Linked DNA regions of Homo sapiens: region 1 is reported to be linked to region 2. The links are microRNA targets in miRTarBase. Many come from high-throughput screens and were not tested one by one. Region 2 holds a microRNA gene; the other region holds the end of a gene's coding sequence.

Region 1 (4,059 bases), not on the chromosome of region 2:
ATAGTATATTTTAGAATGTTTTTATATTTCTTTCTATGACACTAATACAAGGAGAACAATGAATCAGAAAAAAATTGATTTGCATAGGTTAATAAATACATGATCTTAAGCCTATAGAATTAAACTCTAATGGAAAGTAATTTCAGTAATATTGTGCTCCTAATGATTATTCTTTTTGAGTGTCATATGCTTCATCTCTCGAGAAAAAAAAAAGAAAAACTTGGTTTGTCCTGTGATACATATTTCATAAGTAATTTCTCATTGGCTTCTACTGAAATGCCATGTTAAATTATTATCTTTCCTAAGTAAATAGCCATAATAAAAAAATTAGGAATTAATGGAATTTCTGAGCTGAAGAAAAGTTTTTCTCATTCCTATCTAGAAATGGCAAAAATGGGAATTGTTCTTGTGAAGTCATGTTTAGTTGTAATTATGTAACAATGTTTTTGTAAAATACTAAATGGTAACGTCATGTTCTAGAGAGTATTGATATTTATTTTATCCTTTGCCTTATTACCATAGAGAGAACCACGAACCAGAAAGATTGGGCTTAAATGGAATAGCAGAGACAACAGTAGCTATGGAAGTGACATAACCTAAAACACGTGGCTCTGACCTGTGCTGATGGTGTGCAGTCATTCATATTCCAGCTGAATGCAAAAGGCAACACTCTGTGGATCACAGAGTGTAACAATGGACCTAAATGGACTATAGTATATTGGATGTTAAATCCATATATGATGTATATTTTGTAAAATTGGGAAAATCACTACCTTGTAAAATAGTTTATTTGTATCATCAATATTATTTCTGTTACTTGAATAGTAGATATTCATCATCATGCTTTTGCACTTGAATTTGCAACTGAATGGATTTTAAAAAATAATTCTTTAATGGGATCATGAGCATGAAATGGGATCCTGCATCACTTGTTTTAACTATTTATTTTGCCATGTTTACATTTTGTATCTTGTAAAAATAAATCCAACTTTGTGTCTAAAAAGTTAAAGATTCATAGCTAGGAAATGAAATTCTTGTAATTTTTTTCTAAAGGAACTGTAAAGTTTTCACTTGGTTCATTTTGTTTCACAATTTGACTAGATGGACTTTTTGGTAAATACTTTAGTGGCATTTCACTGTCAAATATGAAGTTCAAGGCAAAATAGTATTTTCTATTACTGTGCAGGGGAAAGGGATGGATCGATACATGCAAATTTAATGTAGTAACTCACTTTTCCATATATTTTGAATGTATATTTCTATTTATGATACCAATTTATAAAAAATAATTACACAGAAAAAATGGAATAGGAAAAATTATGCATCTAGCACATTTAAACTGTGCAAATATGAAAATTTTTCGAGGATTACATTTTATCTGAAGGCTGCATATTTTAACTGGCTTTAAAACTGTAACACATCACATAAAAGATACTTTACCAGGTATGTATTGCATTATATCATTGCAATAATTATTGGAAGTCTAGATATCGAGCCATCCCAGGTGTTGGGCGGGGGGAGGGTTGTGGCAAGATTGTCTTTTCAATTTTGGAGAGTTTTCCTGTGGCTACAAGGCAAGTAACGGGTTGGAAAAAGTCTGACTGTAAGCGTTGGACACCTTCATAGTGTAGTGTTTTAGTGACTTTTTTTATACGGTTCTTGTAAATTAGATACGTGTAGTGGTGTTTCAGAATGTTTGTTTATGCACTAGTTCAGACAACTTTCCCTGTTACTTGTTCTTGATAAGTGAAAACTGCAGGGAAATAAAAAATACATATCAAAACATGGACATGCTGCATATGTGTTTATTTCACAATGTGCACACAGTATAAGTGAAAATTTAAGGGAGATGATAGCACTTAACAGCACTTTTCATGTTCACATGCTTTCCAAGCATTAATGAAAAGAACTATAGGAAGCTCATCTGTGGGCTCTATTGGGTTTCAGATAATCCAATATAAACTACCTTTGATATGAAAGTTCGTAAGATATTTTACAGAATGTAAGTAATTTGCAGTATCGCAGTCATTGAAATGTCATAAGTGAGCCTCATTTTATAAATAAAAGTTTAGAGTAGAATTATATTGCAAGGGGGTTTTGTCAAGTAAGTACTGGGAAATGTAAATATTTTTAATGAATACAATTAAAACCATTTCAAACTTACATAATTTTATACTTTACATTTTTTATATCTGCAGTCCTGAAAGTTGTAAATTGAAATGTCAGTTGAATTAATGGGCCAAGATTTCTGGTGAAAGTGGTTTTTATTCAGGTCCTAAATGTGTAAAGCAATTTATGGTCAAAACCATAGAAAAAATACTAATTTTGTCTTGGTTGTGACCTGATAGGATCCATGCTCGTTTCTGCCATACTACCTCTGGAGTTACTCATTGCTGATTATATAAAGGAAATAATTTTGATTTGATATGTATTATGACTGTGTTCATTCTGCTTATAGTTGGATGTATCTCCTTGCTATTAAGAACTTAAAACAACTTTAGTGCCAATTGCAGAGAAAGCTTTTTTCCCCATTTTACTGAAGTAAAGCATGAAGTGAATTTGCCTTATGTGATATATATGTTATAAATAAGTAAAACAAAAGAATTATCCATTTGTACGGTTTCTGGAGGTGGTGGCAAATCCAGAACTTATAAGACTGATGACCAATTGATTTGTTCCTTTTGAAGTAAAATAGAAACGTAAGCCTTCCTTATTTTGTTGGTTGTAACTGTTTCATGGATGGCATTTCAGTTATGTACATACACATTTTCCACTGCTTCTCTAAAACTTAAGTGACAAATATTTGTTTTCACTTTATTAAATTGAAGAATAGTCTATTTCTGCACTGGACAGCACTGCTCTCTTAGTTTTCTCAGGAAATTAGTGTTGGTACTCGGAGTCCAGTAAGCTTTCAGAATCTTTGGAGAATGTGTTTCTTTGGAATGGGTGGAGGTGGTTAATTTTTTTAAAAAAATAACAAAACGGGTAACTCTCACGTGGTAGGATATTCTTAATTCAGCACAGATAAAAACATTTTTGATTGTATTTTTCTTATTTCTCTACCTTCATAAAGAGAGTACACGCCCTTCCTTTCCCAATAATTCAAGATCATTTTTATGATGTAGCTCTAAGTATATTTGAGGATTTGTTTTCTTTTGCAAAAGACCAAGGGAAAAACTAAAAAATTTATAGGGCACATTTTAAAACTATATATATAACACACACACACGTATATTCTGGCTTTTTAAAAAACAGGAATGTATTTGCAACTGTGCTAGGTGTTTTTTTTTTTATTACTAAGGTTGTTTTAGGGGGGAAGGTAGGGGGAGAACAAGGAGGACCAACATTACAGAAACTTCCCTAGTATGTACTGCTGTATTTGAGTATGATGCTACACTTTTCAACAAATTTTGTTGATCAACAATATACTTGTGACTGATGTGTTTTATTGTCTCTTAACTGACTTGGCAAACTTCCAAATTTTAAAAGGTAAGAATATCTGAAGGGATTATGAATATTACATCCTGTAAGATAAGAGATGTTTTTCATCACTGACAGCAGCATCATAATAGCTAACATCATGGAGCATGGAACATTCTCTCTTAATGACTTACTCATTTACTCCTAACAACAATTCTGTTTAGTAATATTATTTTTCCCATTTTAAAGATCAGGAAGATGAAGTTTAGAGAAGTTAGGTAACTCACTCTATGTCACATAGCTGTTAAGTTACTAAGGAATTAAACTTTGGAGTCACCACACTTCTAACCACACTGCCTTCTACCTTTAACATGAAAGAAGCCCTCCTCAAAGAAGTATTTATTCTATTTCTCAGTCCACTTGTTAGCAGCATCCGTAGCAGTTTAGAATTTCATTTAGAAGACAGCCACCCAACTATTACACCACGAGACTAAGTGAATTATATCCAACTGTGGCTTCTAGCCATCCACTGAGGAAACCCAAATATTCTTTTCTGCCTGCCGGACCTAGTGAGTAAGTGCTAAAGCTCTCAACACAAAGCAATGGGAGCGAGGTCTGGTCCAGGTCTTGGCTGATTTA
Region 2 (4,070 bases):
AGCTGGGGGAGAGCCAGGAACAGATCCTCCCTCACAGCCTCAGCAGGAACCACACCTGCTGACCCCTTGATCTTGGACTTCTGGCCTCCAGAGCTGTGAGAGAATAAATTTCTGTTGTTTAAAGCACCTAGTCTGTGCTACTTTGGGCAGCCCTGGCGAGGTCACGCAGCCACTCACCATCTATCTGTGTGACTCTGGCATGGCTTCTCCTTGCCCTGTCTGTAACATGTAGATGACAATAAATGTCTAAGTCAGAGGGTCGTTAGGAACACTAATTAAATAAATTAACATATGCAAGTGTTTCAAATAGAAGTTGACGCAAAGAAAGAGGTATATGAATGTATTAGTCCGTTCTCACGCTGCTATAAGGGCATACCAGAGACTGGGTAATTTACAAAGGAAAGAGGTTTAATTGACTCACAGTTCCGCAGGGCTGAGGAGGCCTCAGGAAACTTACAATCATGGCGGAAGGAGAAGCAAACATGTCCTTTTTAAAATGGCAGTAGCAAAGAGACGTGCAGAGCAAAAGGGGGAAAAGCCCCTTATAAAACCATCAGATCTCGCGAGAACTCACTCACCATCACGAGAACAGCAACATGGAGATAACCGCCCCCATGATTCAATTACCTCCCACCAGGTCCTTCCCATGCATGACATGTGGGGATTATGGGAACTACAATTCAAGATGAGATGTGGTTGGGGACACAGACAAACCATATCAATGAATATTTCTTAAATAAAAAAAAATTAAAACCAACATCTGCATGAGTCATTATAGGTATTATTAGTGAATCTGCTTGACTCTTCAGTCAGTATGGTATTAGAGGGAAAATAAGAAATCCTTTGGAAAGCCAAAATGCCATTGCTTATTCCAAGCACTGTCTACAAATTGTTATAATCAGAGCTATGTTGTTTTCTTTGTTTTTCTTTAAATCGTTTGGATCTGGCAGTGCCCAGGCCTTTAGGTTTCTAATAAATTATTAATCTAAGAGTTAATAATTCAAGTTAATTGGTGGTATAAGCCACTTTCTCTGGCAAATGTGAGCAAAGGTCACAACTTTTTAACAGCAAGGGTGAAACCTTTTCTGAGGTTTTTTCCCTCCCCCATGGTCTATCATGGAAATATTAAGATATGAAAGAAAAATTTTAACCAGAGCTGGGAAAGCAAGATAATTCCAAGGATAAAAGTGTAGACTGTCAGCCATACTTCCTGGCCAAGCACTGTCTCCATAGCCCTGCTGGAGGAAAAGGAGGTCTCCAGGGAATTCAGGGGACTCCAGCCCCACAGGAGCCCACCCAAGAAGGACACAGCCATGCAGGTTTGTAAACCTTTGACAAGACAACTTATAATCATTAAACATGTTGACTCATTGATCAAAAAAGTTTTGGTTTTTTGTTTTTGTTTTTGTTTTTGTTTTCAGAAAATAAAAGAAGGCATTTAAGAGATTAGCTCACCAATGGGATTTTTCACAAAGAATGATAATTTTCCTAAATTACAAGGCACAGGCTTAAGAATAGAGAACATCCATTCATACTGGGTGACAGCCATAGAATGCTAAGCAAACCCCTTCCACCACTGACTTCTTTGATTTTAATTAATGTATATATGCTCTGCCTTTTTGTTTCCAGAAAGAATTTCAGGTAATTCCTGATTGCAGGCCGCAGAAGCCAAGAAATAAAAGACTTCTTACCCGAACTAATGTGACTTTACTTTCCAGCTCATGGATTTGCCCCTAGATCTGTGAAGCAGCCACAAGTGGCCTAGCTGTTCTGGGTGTTTTATACCTTTTTTGGCCTTAATGCTTATTTGCAAGGTTCATGTCAAGTTACAGGCTGATGTGATGAAATGACTTTTTCCCATTTGGAAAATAAGATTATTCTTAGTAGCTTGTTTCAGTCTTGATTAAAAGATAGATGTAAAATATTCAAAGAATGATGTCTGAAGACTTAAAGATAAAATTTACATGGAAGCCACTAGTTTAAAGAGATTCAGTCAGCTCCTCCAGCTCTTGTTTTTCTAAAGAAAATTTGAATAGCATATGCTTTTCATTGTGCTCCTTTTCAGCCATTTACATATTGGGGAAATATATATTTGGCAACTGGTCCTATTTTTAGGAGTCCTTGAAACTTGCCCTTTGAAAATGTTTTCATTTTTGGCACATATGTGTGTCTTAAGCAGAATGAAAACACAAAGTAAAAAAGAAAAATATGTACAAAAAGGAATGATTTTTCCAGCCCTATGTAGCACAATAAGAAAGCAATCATTCAGTGGTGACTTTAAAAAATGGATTCTTGCCTGGATTTTCCAACGATTTCCTTCTAAGTGAGCGTTTCTCTGCAGAACTGAACTAATGTAAAGAGACAGTTTGTTCCAGTGCCAGAAATGAACCAGCAAAAAAAAGGACGGAGGCTCTATTTTCATAGGAGGAAGTTAACAAAATAATACCCACTCTGTTTCTCTGCAGCCTCTTGTGTCATTTCAGAAGAAAGTGCCATATGCCCATTGCGTGATTTGAAGCGTGTATTCCCAGCCTGACTCTTGGTCACCACTCGTTCTGTTATTTGCAGTCAGTAACAAAGATTCATCCTTGTGTCCATCATGCAACAAGGAGAATCTTTGTCACTTAGTGTAATTAATAGCTGGACCTTGCAAAGGAAGGTGGGAGAAGGAAGCCGTTCATGCATAGACCTGGATAAATTCAGAACAGGCTTTGCGGATCTTTGCTGCCTTTTGACCAATTAAGGTGCCAGAGCCCCAGCAGAAGAGGAAATATGGTAAACAAAGTGTTTTCTCTGGGGCTGTGTGTGTTATAATCCCAAGCTCTGTAACTGTGGTTCAGGAGAGCTCTCTAACTTTCCCTATCAAGCCAGATGACCATCGACTCCCCTCTACGTCTATGTCCTATTTCAGTGTATCCTTCCCACTTTCCTTCCACCACACTGTCTTCACCAGCCTCTAGATAGATACCACTATAGGATAAAAATCAAAAAGAGAGGCCTTATGTTTGATGAGTGCCTCCCCTAGACTATGTGGTTAAATCACTCAGCAAGCTTTCAGAGAATGTGTAATGGGCCCTGTTTTCAAAATGAGAGGACTGAAAAGAGGTTTAGAGAGGCCAGCGCTGAGGTTAGGCTCAGGGAACAGATAGAAATAGCCGATTCAGGACCACATCAAGGGCTCTCTAATGCCGGGATTCTTAGCTCACTTTTCCCTGTATTGTGATCTTTTCTTTCACTTTTTTTTTTTTTAATAGAGATGGGGTCTTGTTATATTTCCCAGGCTGGTCTTGAACTCCTGGCCTCAAGCAATACTCCTGTCTTGGCCTCCCAAAGTGCTGGGGTTGCAGGCGTGAGCCACTGTACCCAGCCTCCTTAACTTTCTGAACTCCTACTTATTTATTTTTGTGACCCTACTTCTTTATTCTTCCTCCTCCTGTACAAAAATGGCTGGATGGATTCCACTTGTCCCTGGACCTTTAAACTCCTGTCCTCCATACCTGAACAAATCCAATTTATCTCTCAAAGTTTCAGAGAGTTCCTAAATACTAATAGTTCCTCACCATCATCTCACTTGCAATCCGTGCATTTCAGAGTTCCCTTCCCAGAGGCCATTTTTGCCTTTAATTAGCAAATGCATACTATTCTAGGATCCATGAGATTTTTTTCCTTCTATTTCTGCCCAAGGAGAAAGCAAACACGTACTGCTGCATTTGCCATCCTAGGTCCATAATCTCTCTGATCTTTCTTCACCTTTAAAAATCTCACCTCATATATCTTTTCTTAGGCTCATCCCTCAAATATTCAGGTTATTTCCCCCAGGCTTCCTCTCACCTCTCTCCTTGTGGCTACACTGGCTAGGAGTGTCCAGCCTCATTCAAGAGGGGGTCGGATCTCCTTTCCCTGCCCTGTTGCTTTCCACGGTGGAACCAGCATCCTCCCTGACTCCCTGCCCCTCCTCAGGAACCACAACTCCCTGTCGCCCTCCTCTGAACAGGATTGTTCTCCATCCATCCTCCTCCCTGCTCAGACCTCCATCCATAGCACTGTTTCTAAACCTCCAGCTCCCTCTC

What was found. Region 2 holds the annotated microRNA hsa-miR-802 (CAGUAACAAAGAUUCAUCCUUGU, at 2,570-2,592, shown strand). A microRNA usually pairs through its seed, bases 2 to 8, with sites in the 3' UTR of a target mRNA and lowers its output. Matches are read on the target gene's strand: a 7mer-m8 pairs with bases 2 to 8, a 7mer-A1 pairs with bases 2 to 7 and ends in A, and an 8mer does both.
Region 1: miRTarBase lists EPC2 as a target of hsa-miR-802. Seed matches in the 3' UTR shown: 7mer-m8 at 812-818 and 7mer-m8 at 1,728-1,734.

What each region holds. Positions count from the first base shown.
Region 1 is chr2:148,785,783-148,789,841 of GRCh38, forward strand. It overlaps EPC2 (enhancer of polycomb 2), which reads left to right. Exons shown (of 14, transcript NM_015630.4): 14 at 523-1,787. The coding sequence ends at 595. Among named protein-coding and RNA genes, the nearest start is that of KIF5C, 87 kb to the right of the region's middle.
Region 2 is chr21:35,718,163-35,722,232 of GRCh38, forward strand. MIR802 (microRNA 802) reads left to right here and starts at 2,553; the gene lies at 2,553-2,646.